3 separate regions of the Homo sapiens genome follow, and regions 1 and 3 are each linked to region 2. The links come from fine-mapping of genetic effects on gene expression. A gene starts in region 2. Each other region holds a variant in brackets. All regions are shown on one strand. Distances are from middle to middle. Region 1 holds the start of KCNK7 (potassium two pore domain channel subfamily K member 7). Region 2 holds the start of LTBP3 (latent transforming growth factor beta binding protein 3). Region 3 overlaps SCYL1 (SCY1 like pseudokinase 1).

Region 1 (2,750 bases), 37 kb before region 2:
CTCCATCCATGACGCCTACAGTAGCCCAGCGTAGGTCTCCCTGGACCACATTTATCCTCAAGGGCCTGTGTCCTTATCCCCCCTTCACCCCCAACTCTCCCCTGCCACAGCCAGCCCTCTGTTCCTCTCACACCCCAAGCTCATTCCTACCTTCACTGGCCTCTTACTCCCCAGCTGAAATATCACCTCCTTAGCAGAGCTTTCCCAGTGAGATAACCCCCCCGCTCCCCGCAGAGCTCTCCCATCACCCAGGGTGTTTCCTTCATGGAACTCATGACAATGTGAGGTTGCCATGTTTCTTTGCTAAGAGGTTTCTTGTGTAAACACCAGGAAGGAAAGGACCTGTGCCTGTCCTCTTCCCTAAGCACTTGAATGAATGAATGAATGAATGAATGTGGTATGGGTGCCTGAGTGAGCAGGACCTTGAATAAGTGTGAGGTCCTCTCTAGGCTTCAGCTTCCTCCGCCTCCTCCCCTCACCGCAGCCGCCTTCCTCCACCCATCCCCACCATCCCAGCTGCTGTGAAATGGGCAAATGTCTTGCCTCCAGGACCTGGGAAGGGTGATGCAGCTCACCTCCCTCCTGTTCACACCCCAGCCACCCCAGCCATCCCAGCCGGGTCCCAGCCACCCACACAGCACCTCCTCCTGGCCCCGCCCTGCCCAGCCCCTCCCAGGTGCCTGAGGTGGAGCCGCCAGTTCCCACAGCACCCCAGCGGCCTGCCATGGGGGGTCTAAGGCCCTGGTCCCGATACGGGCTCCTGGTTGTGGCCCACTTGCTGGCCCTGGGGCTTGGGGCTGTGGTGTTCCAGGCCCTGGAGGGGCCTCCTGCATGCAGGCTTCAGGCTGAGCTCAGGGCAGAGCTGGCAGCCTTCCAGGCAGAGCATAGGGCCTGCCTGCCACCCGGAGCTCTGGAAGAGCTGCTGGGCACTGCCCTGGCCACCCAGGCCCATGGGGTCTCCACCCTGGGCAACAGCTCAGAGGGCAGGACCTGGGACCTTCCCTCAGCCCTGCTCTTCGCTGCCAGCATCCTCACCACCACAGGTAAGAGAGCCAGGCAGCCAAGTCGGGGGGTGCGGCTCCAAGAGGCCATGGCTCCCTGGGGGCTTTGGGGTTCATGCAGCCCTTCCTTCAGCCCCAAAGAGCCAGATGGAGCCCAGGCCCTGTGAGGCCTGACATCACAGCTGGGGCTCCCCACCAACACACCCCAACTGGTGCCTCCACTTCAACTGCCAGGAAGGGTGTGGCCTCCCCAGTCCCACCCCAGGCACCCTTTGAGACCCAGGAGAGCTGCCCAGATGCCACAGCCTGTGGCCAGATAGGGGATACAATACAGTGGGATGGATTCTTGGATGGAAGCAAATAGAATGAACCTGGGAAGGACAGATCAGGACCATGGCCTCGGGTGGGGGAGTGAGGGAAGATAGGGGAGGAAGTCGGCATGAGATGCTTGTGGATCAGGAGGGCACAGACAGGGATGAGGGAGTCCTGCAGAGAAATCGCGTGGGCACAGGCCCAGGGAAAAGCAGCAATGAGACCCACAGCC[C/T]TGGGTTTTCGTATTTTTTGCCCCACAAAGTGTCTCAGTATTTTTTGAATTGGAATTTGTATTTCCAACTTTTTTTTTTTTTGAAACGGTGTCTGACCCTGTCACCCAGGCTGGGGTGCGGTGGTGCGATCTTGGCTCACTGCAACCTCCACCTCCCGGGTTCTAGCAATTCTCCTGCCTCAGCCTCCTGAGTAGCTGGGACTACAGGCATGCACCACCATGCCCGGCTAATTTTTGTGTTTTTAGTAGAGACGGGGTTTTGCCATGTTGGCCAGGCTGTTCTCAAACTCCTGACCTCAAGTGATCCACCTGCCTCAGCCTCCCAAAGTGTTGGGATTACAGGTGTGAGCCACTGTGCCCAGCTCATATTTCCAACTTCTTTTGGAAAATCAGGAAACCCACTCACACTGAGCCAGAATCCCTGCAAGGCAACATCCTGACTGGAGCAGAATGGGGCCTGCCCTTTGGATACAGCTCACACTTTCCAGTGTACCCCTGTCCCCACCACTCCTGTTTGTCTCCCATCTGGCTCCGGTAGGCATGTGCGTTTGCAGCTCTGTATTAGCTGATCCTGTTCTCCCAGCACACCCCGCACTCCCACCCCTCCCCGCCTGGCACATGCCCTCTCTCGCCCATGCTGCCTCTTTGCAGCCCTTCATGATTTGCCTGCCCGACTCCCCCACCAGAAGGGGCAGGGCCTGGGCTGATTCAGATCCCAGTACAAAGCCTGGCACACAGGACATGACACACATTTGGGGAAAGAGTGGATGATATTCCACCAGCTGTGGAATCGGGAGTATCTGTTAAGGGCAGCGCAGTTCTCAGAATTGTCCCAGCTACAAAAGGCCTGAGGAACTGTCTTCTTTCATCCTTTCATTTTCCAAAAAAGAAAAGAATGGCCTAGAGAGGGTAAGGGATCCCCTGACGAAGAGGAGCAGAGCCAGCTAGAACCTGGGCCTGGCCAGTTCAAGGCCACCAGAGGGCAGCCTTCTGCGGAAGGCAGTATTGGGGTAGGCAGGGACCCCAGCAGACATGGCACTCAGAGCTCTCACTGTCCACTGACTCTCTCTTCTCCAGGTTATGGCCACATGGCCCCACTATCGCCAGGCGGAAAGGCCTTCTGCATGGTCTATGCAGCCCTGGGGCTGCCAGCCTCCTTAGCTCTCGTGGCCACCCTGCGCCATTGCCTGCTGCCTGTGCTCAGC
Region 2 (2,748 bases):
AGGAAAAAATGAGTATACAATGCTCAGCCCTGTGCCTGGCAGGTGGTCGGCACCTAGCATTATTCCCTGCCTCCGTGTGGACCAGGGCCCCAAGAAGCAGGGGCTTGCCCCTCACACCCCATCCTGGATTCCGGCAGCAGGGATCCCTGGGGACATGTGATTGTCCCTCCCAGCCCTGCACCGCTTAGTAAGGGGGACTTACTAAGCGTCCCCCTAAAGCTACCCACATCAACTTACGCTCAAAGTAAAAACAGAGTTCCTTGGACAGGTGTGCCTGAAAGTGAGTCCCTGAACCTCCTCTCCCCAATTAGACTGCTGCCCCGGGTGCTGTCCGGGAGAGGGTCTGGTGCCGCCCTGACTTGGCAGCGCTTTTCCTGGATGTGCCCTAGCCGTCCCCACCTCCTGCTGAGTTCTGTGAGTCAGAGACGGAACCCTGGGGTCTCCTGGCAGGCCCCACAGTAAGGCCTGGGCCCCCGCACGTTGCAGCCTTTCCTTCCAGACCAGCGGACAAGCCTGGTCTGGAACTATGCTCCTCTCCAGCCATGGCCAACCTGAAGACCCCCACCCCCAGCCGCTGCCAGCCCCTGCCCTGGGGCTCTGCTGTGCCCCTCTCCAGCCCCTGGGCCCTCGGACAGCGCCCCCGTCCTCCCGGCTGTTAGCCTGGGAAGGGGGCCAGGCCCTGAGCTCAGACCTTGGCGATTCCAGAGTGTCTGAGGCCCAGAGCCAGCCCCGCCAGCACGGCCAGACGAAAGGAAAGGGGGGAGGTGGCAGGGTGGGCACCAGGAAGCCATTCCGAGGGGGCTGGCAGGGAAGCTGGGTTCTAGCTTTGTTCTTTCTGCTCCTCTTCTGGACCCCACAGACTTCCTCCTGGGACCTCCGTGAGCCCTGGCCAAAGGCTGTCCCCACCCTTTAGCCCTTTCCTCAGAGGGGATTGGACCAGCACTAACGAGAAGTTACTTTGGGGCCCTGAGACCCCCACGTTTGCAAGGGAGGCTGGGAAAGAGCTGGAAGGCCTGGGCTCCGGCTCCACCCGGCCTCCATCGTCAGTGTGACCCGGCAGGGCCACCTCTCTCCCTCAGCCTCGGTATCTCGCTCTACGCAGGCCTCCCCGCCCCGCCCCGCCCGGAGGAATCCGCGGCCGGCCAGACGGTCCCAGGTGAGGGCCCTCTGGAAAGGGCCCAGCGCGGCCGCGGGTTCCGGCGGGGGCGGGCATCTGGGGTGGGGACTGTCCCCGCGCCACCCCCCAGCCTCCGCCAGCCTGCACACCCTCGCTTCTCCAGGCGGCAGAGGCGACGCTTTAAACAACAAAAAAAAAAAAACTGTGTCCCTGGCCCGGGGCCAGCGTCCCAGCCCCCCTCGCCGCCGCCGCGCCGCGCTCCAGCCAGGGAAAACAACTGCTCACTTCTCCCTGAGCCCTCCCCGCGCGCTCCCTGCCTCCCCGCGGCCGCGGGAGAGGAGCCCGGCCAGGGGGAGGCGCGGAGCGGGCCGGCCGCCCGGCCTTCCTCTCCCTCGCTCCTCCTCTCCGCCTCAACTTGCTCCGGCCTCCTCGCTCCTGCCTGAGTTCGGGGCCTGGTCTGGGCTTCGTCCTGGGGCTGGGAAGTTTCTGCGCTCCCCGCTGTCCAGTCTGCATCTCCGCGCCTCCCGCCGGGCCCCCGCGGTCCCCTCCCGCCCGCTTCCCCCGCTGCCCTCCCTCGCTGCCCCCTACCCTCTCCCGGGGCTCCCGGCCCTCTACTCCCTTCGGGCGCGGGCCCCTCGCCCCGCCCGGGCGCGCCCCCCCTCCCCCGGGTCCTGCGGCCCCGGATGCCCGGGCCCCGAGGGGCTGCTGGCGGCCTGGCCCCTGAGATGCGCGGGGCGGGGGCGGCGGGGCTGCTGGCGCTGCTGCTGCTGCTGCTGCTGCTGCTGCTGGGCCTGGGCGGCAGGGTCGAGGGGGGGCCGGCCGGCGAGCGGGGCGCAGGCGGGGGCGGGGCGCTGGCCCGCGAGCGCTTCAAGGTGGTCTTTGCGCCGGTGATCTGCAAGCGGACCTGTCTCAAGGGCCAGTGTCGGGACAGTTGTCAGCAGGGCTCCAACATGACGCTCATCGGAGAGAACGGCCACAGCACAGACACGCTCACGGGCTCCGGCTTCCGCGTGGGTGAGGGCCGGGGGCACGGCTGGGGGCAGGGGAAGGACAGGCACCAGGCCCGGTGGGAGAGCTAGTGGGGTCTTGGCCTTAGAGACTGGGGGCTGAGGGTATAAAGGGCAGAGATCCGAGGGCCTGGGGGACCAGGGGCCTCAGGGAACTTGGGAGGCTGGAACTCTGGGGGCCAGAGTTGGAGGGCTGCATGGAGGCCTGGACTTTGAAGCTTTGCGTTAGGGTTGGGGCCTAAGGGGTGGGGAAATGCAGAGGTCCTGGATGACACTGGCTTCCCAGAAGGTGCTGAGTTCTGAGCAGGAGCACACAGGGTTTTTGAGGAATGTGAGCCGGGGACAGGAAGCCTCAGAGAAGGGCTAAATATTCCCGCAAGAAGCAGACTTGCTGGAAGAAACAAGAAAAGTCTTTACAAAATGTCTAAAGTAGGGCCTGCCAGAGTAGACACCTGCATTCCCTGGGAGGAGGAGCTAAGGTCAGGGCTGGGGATGGGAGCCGGCTACTGGCAAGGTCTGAGTAGGGAGGGTGTTGAGGCCTAAAAGTAGGGTGCAGGCCTGAAGGTAGGGACTAGTTCGGGGTTCTCAGCCTCTCCTTTTCCAATGCCTCCCCATAAGCTCCTA
Region 3 (2,750 bases), 25 kb after region 2:
AAACTTTGGTCTCTGGTCTTCCAGGACACCACCCCCTCCTGGTTCTCCTCTGACCTGGCTGGCTGCTCCTTTTGCTGAGACTCTAACGTTCACACACCCGGAGCCAATCTAGAGGGCTCTTTTCTATCTAACACTCTTGCCCTAGGTGATCTCAGCCATTTCATGGCTTTCAATGCCATCTTGTGAGCTGACAACCCCCAGGCACATACCCCTAGCCCAGACTTCCCTAAATTTCACACATGCATAACCAGTGGCCAACTCGACATCTCCATCCAGCTGCCTAACAGAAACAGCCAAGATGGGGCCCAACATGCTTGTGTCATCTCAGTAAATAGCAACTCCTAACCTTCCAGTTGCTCAGGCCACAAGCCTCAGAGCCACTCTCGTCTCCGTATCTTTTTTGTTTCTGAGATAGAGTCTCACTCTGTCACCCAGGCTGGAGTGCAGTGGTGTGATCTCTACTCACTGCAACCTCTGCCTCCTGGGTTCAAGCAATTCTCCTGCCTCAGCCTCCTGAGTGGCTAGGATTACAGGCGCCCACCACCATGCCTGGCTAATTTTTTTAATTTTTATTTTATTTTATTTTTTTGAGACGGAGTCTTGCTCTGTTGCCCAGGCTGGAGTGCAGTGGCGCGATATCGGCTCACTGCAAGCTCCATCTCCGAGGTTCACACCATTCTCCTGCCTCAGCCTCCCAAGTAGCTGGGACCACAGGCGCCCACCACCATGCCCGGCTAGATTGTTTTTGTACTTTTAGTAGAGACGGGGTTTCACCATGTTAGCCAGGATGGTCTTGATCTCCTGCCCTTGTGATCCGCCCACCTCAGCCTCCCAAAGTCTGGGATTACAGGTGTGAGCAACCGGGCCCAGCCATTTTTTGTATTTTTAGTAGAGATGGGGTTTTACCATGTTTTACCATGTTGGCCAGGCTGGTCTCAAACTCCCATCGCCTCAGGTGATCCACCCGCCTCGGCCTCCCAAAGTGCTGGGATTACAGGCATGGGCCACCAGGCCCGGCCTAAAATAATTTCTTAAATTTTGAGATGAGGTCTCACTCTGTTGCCCAGGCTGGAATGCAGTGTCACGATCACAGCTCAATGCAGCCTCAACCTCCTGGGCTCAAGCTACCTACCTGCCTCAGCCTCCCGAGTAGCTGGGACTATAGGCGTGCATCACCATACGCGCCTAACTTTTGTATTTTTTTGTAGAGATGGGGTTTGGCCATGATGACCAGGCTGGTCTCCAACTCCTGGGCTCAAGCGATCCTCCCACCTCGGCCTACCAAAGTGCTGGGATCACAGGCGTAAGCCACTGCGCCCAGCCCCTGACCACTGTTTTTAAAACCACAAACTCTTCTCCCCACACTTTCCAACAATGCATATTTTCTTTCTTTTTTTGAAACAGAGTTTCCCTCTTGTTGCCCATGCTGGAGTGCAACGGCATGATCTCGGCTCACTGCAACCTCTGCCTCCCAGGTTCAATTGAGTCTCCTGCCTCAGCCTCCCGAGTAGCTGGGATTACAGGCATGCGCCACCATCCCCAGATGGTTTTGTACTTTTTAGTAGAGACAGGGCTTCGCCATGTTGGTCAGGCTGGTCTCGAACTCCTGACCTCAGGTGATCCGCTTGCCTCAGCCTCCCAAAGTGCAGGGATTATGGGCGTGAGCCACCG[T/C]GACCAGCCAACAATACATATTTTCTAATTCTGTTGTATTGTCTGGCAAGCCCACCCTCTGTGCCCTGGAAAGGAAGCTCCATGAGTGCAGGGGGCTGGGCACCTCATGCATGCTGCCTCCCAGCATGGGGCTTGGGCCAGGAACAGGCAGATGCTCGTTGTCTGCTGAATGGAGGACGTGCTCCCCCGCCAGCTGCCGAGCTGCACCCACGGCCTGAACCCACACAGCAAGGACAGTGTCTGCTTGGACCCATGGGCCAAAGCCAAGGCCTCTGTGTCTAGGGTGAGCCCCTCCAAGCCTTGGAAAACCAGGGGTAGCCACTCTGGGCCTGGCCACACCCACCTTGACCGTCTGCTCCCGGATGGCAGGGTTGGTGTCCAGGAAGCCATGTACGACGTGGGGGAAGATCTGGGTGTTGACTGTTGGCTCGTCAAGGTACTGGATGAACTGCTCCATCTGTGGCCCAGGTTGGGATGCGTCAACATGGTCAGCCCTTCCCACTCTATCCCCATAGCCATGGAACCGCTCCTGGCTTAGCTTTTCCACCCAGCAGGCACTGGCCAGCCAGGTCAACCTCCTGAGCCACCACCCAGGTGTTTGGCCTCAGGCCCAGGTGGAGGAGTGAGGAAAGGCCAGGAGGGCGCTAGGAAGGCCTGGCTCATAGTCCGGCTCATCTGGCCACCCTCTCAGAGCCTCTTCTATTTTTTTTTTTTTTTTTTTTCTGAGACAGAGTCTTGCTCTGTCACCGAGGCTGGAGTGCAGTGGCGCAATCTCAGCTCACTGAAACCTCTGCCTCCCAGGTTCAAGCAATTCTCCTGCCTCAGCCTCCTGAGCAGCTGGGATTACAGGCACCCACCACCGCACCTGGCTAATTTTTGTATTTTTAGTAGAGACGGGGTTTCGCCAAGTTGGCCAGGCTGGTCTTAAACTCCTGACCTCAGGTGATCTGCCTGCCTCGGCCCTCCCAAAGTGCTGGGATTACAGGCATGAGCCACTGCGCCCAGCCTGAGCCTCTTCTATAAATGAGGGTATCACCCCTTCCCTGCTCCTCCCCACCTGCCCACAGTGCCACGAGGAG

What was found. PIP is the estimated chance that this variant, and not a neighbour inherited with it, causes the effect.
Region 1: its variant is fine-mapped to the expression of LTBP3 in whole blood (TOPMed, PIP above 0.99).
Region 3: its variant is fine-mapped to the expression of LTBP3 in whole blood (TOPMed, PIP 0.98).

Annotation. Positions count from the first base shown.
Region 1 is chr11:65,593,747-65,596,496 of GRCh38, reverse strand. KCNK7 (potassium two pore domain channel subfamily K member 7) reads left to right here and starts at 697. Exons shown (of 3, transcript NM_033347.2): 1 at 697-1,043; 2 at 2,623-2,750. The coding sequence starts at 725. The variant C/T (reference allele first, on the strand shown) is at 1,546.
Region 2 is chr11:65,557,012-65,559,759 of GRCh38, reverse strand. LTBP3 (latent transforming growth factor beta binding protein 3) reads left to right here and starts at 1,401. Exons shown (of 28, transcript NM_001130144.3): 1 at 1,401-2,131. The coding sequence starts at 1,801. RefSeq lists silencers at 1,123-1,282, 1,333-1,572.
Region 3 is chr11:65,532,070-65,534,819 of GRCh38, reverse strand. SCYL1 (SCY1 like pseudokinase 1) reads right to left here. Exons shown (of 18, transcript NM_020680.4): 9 at 2,015-2,128. Among named protein-coding and RNA genes, the nearest start is that of SCYL1, 8.4 kb to the right of the region's middle. The variant T/C (reference allele first, on the strand shown) is at 1,672.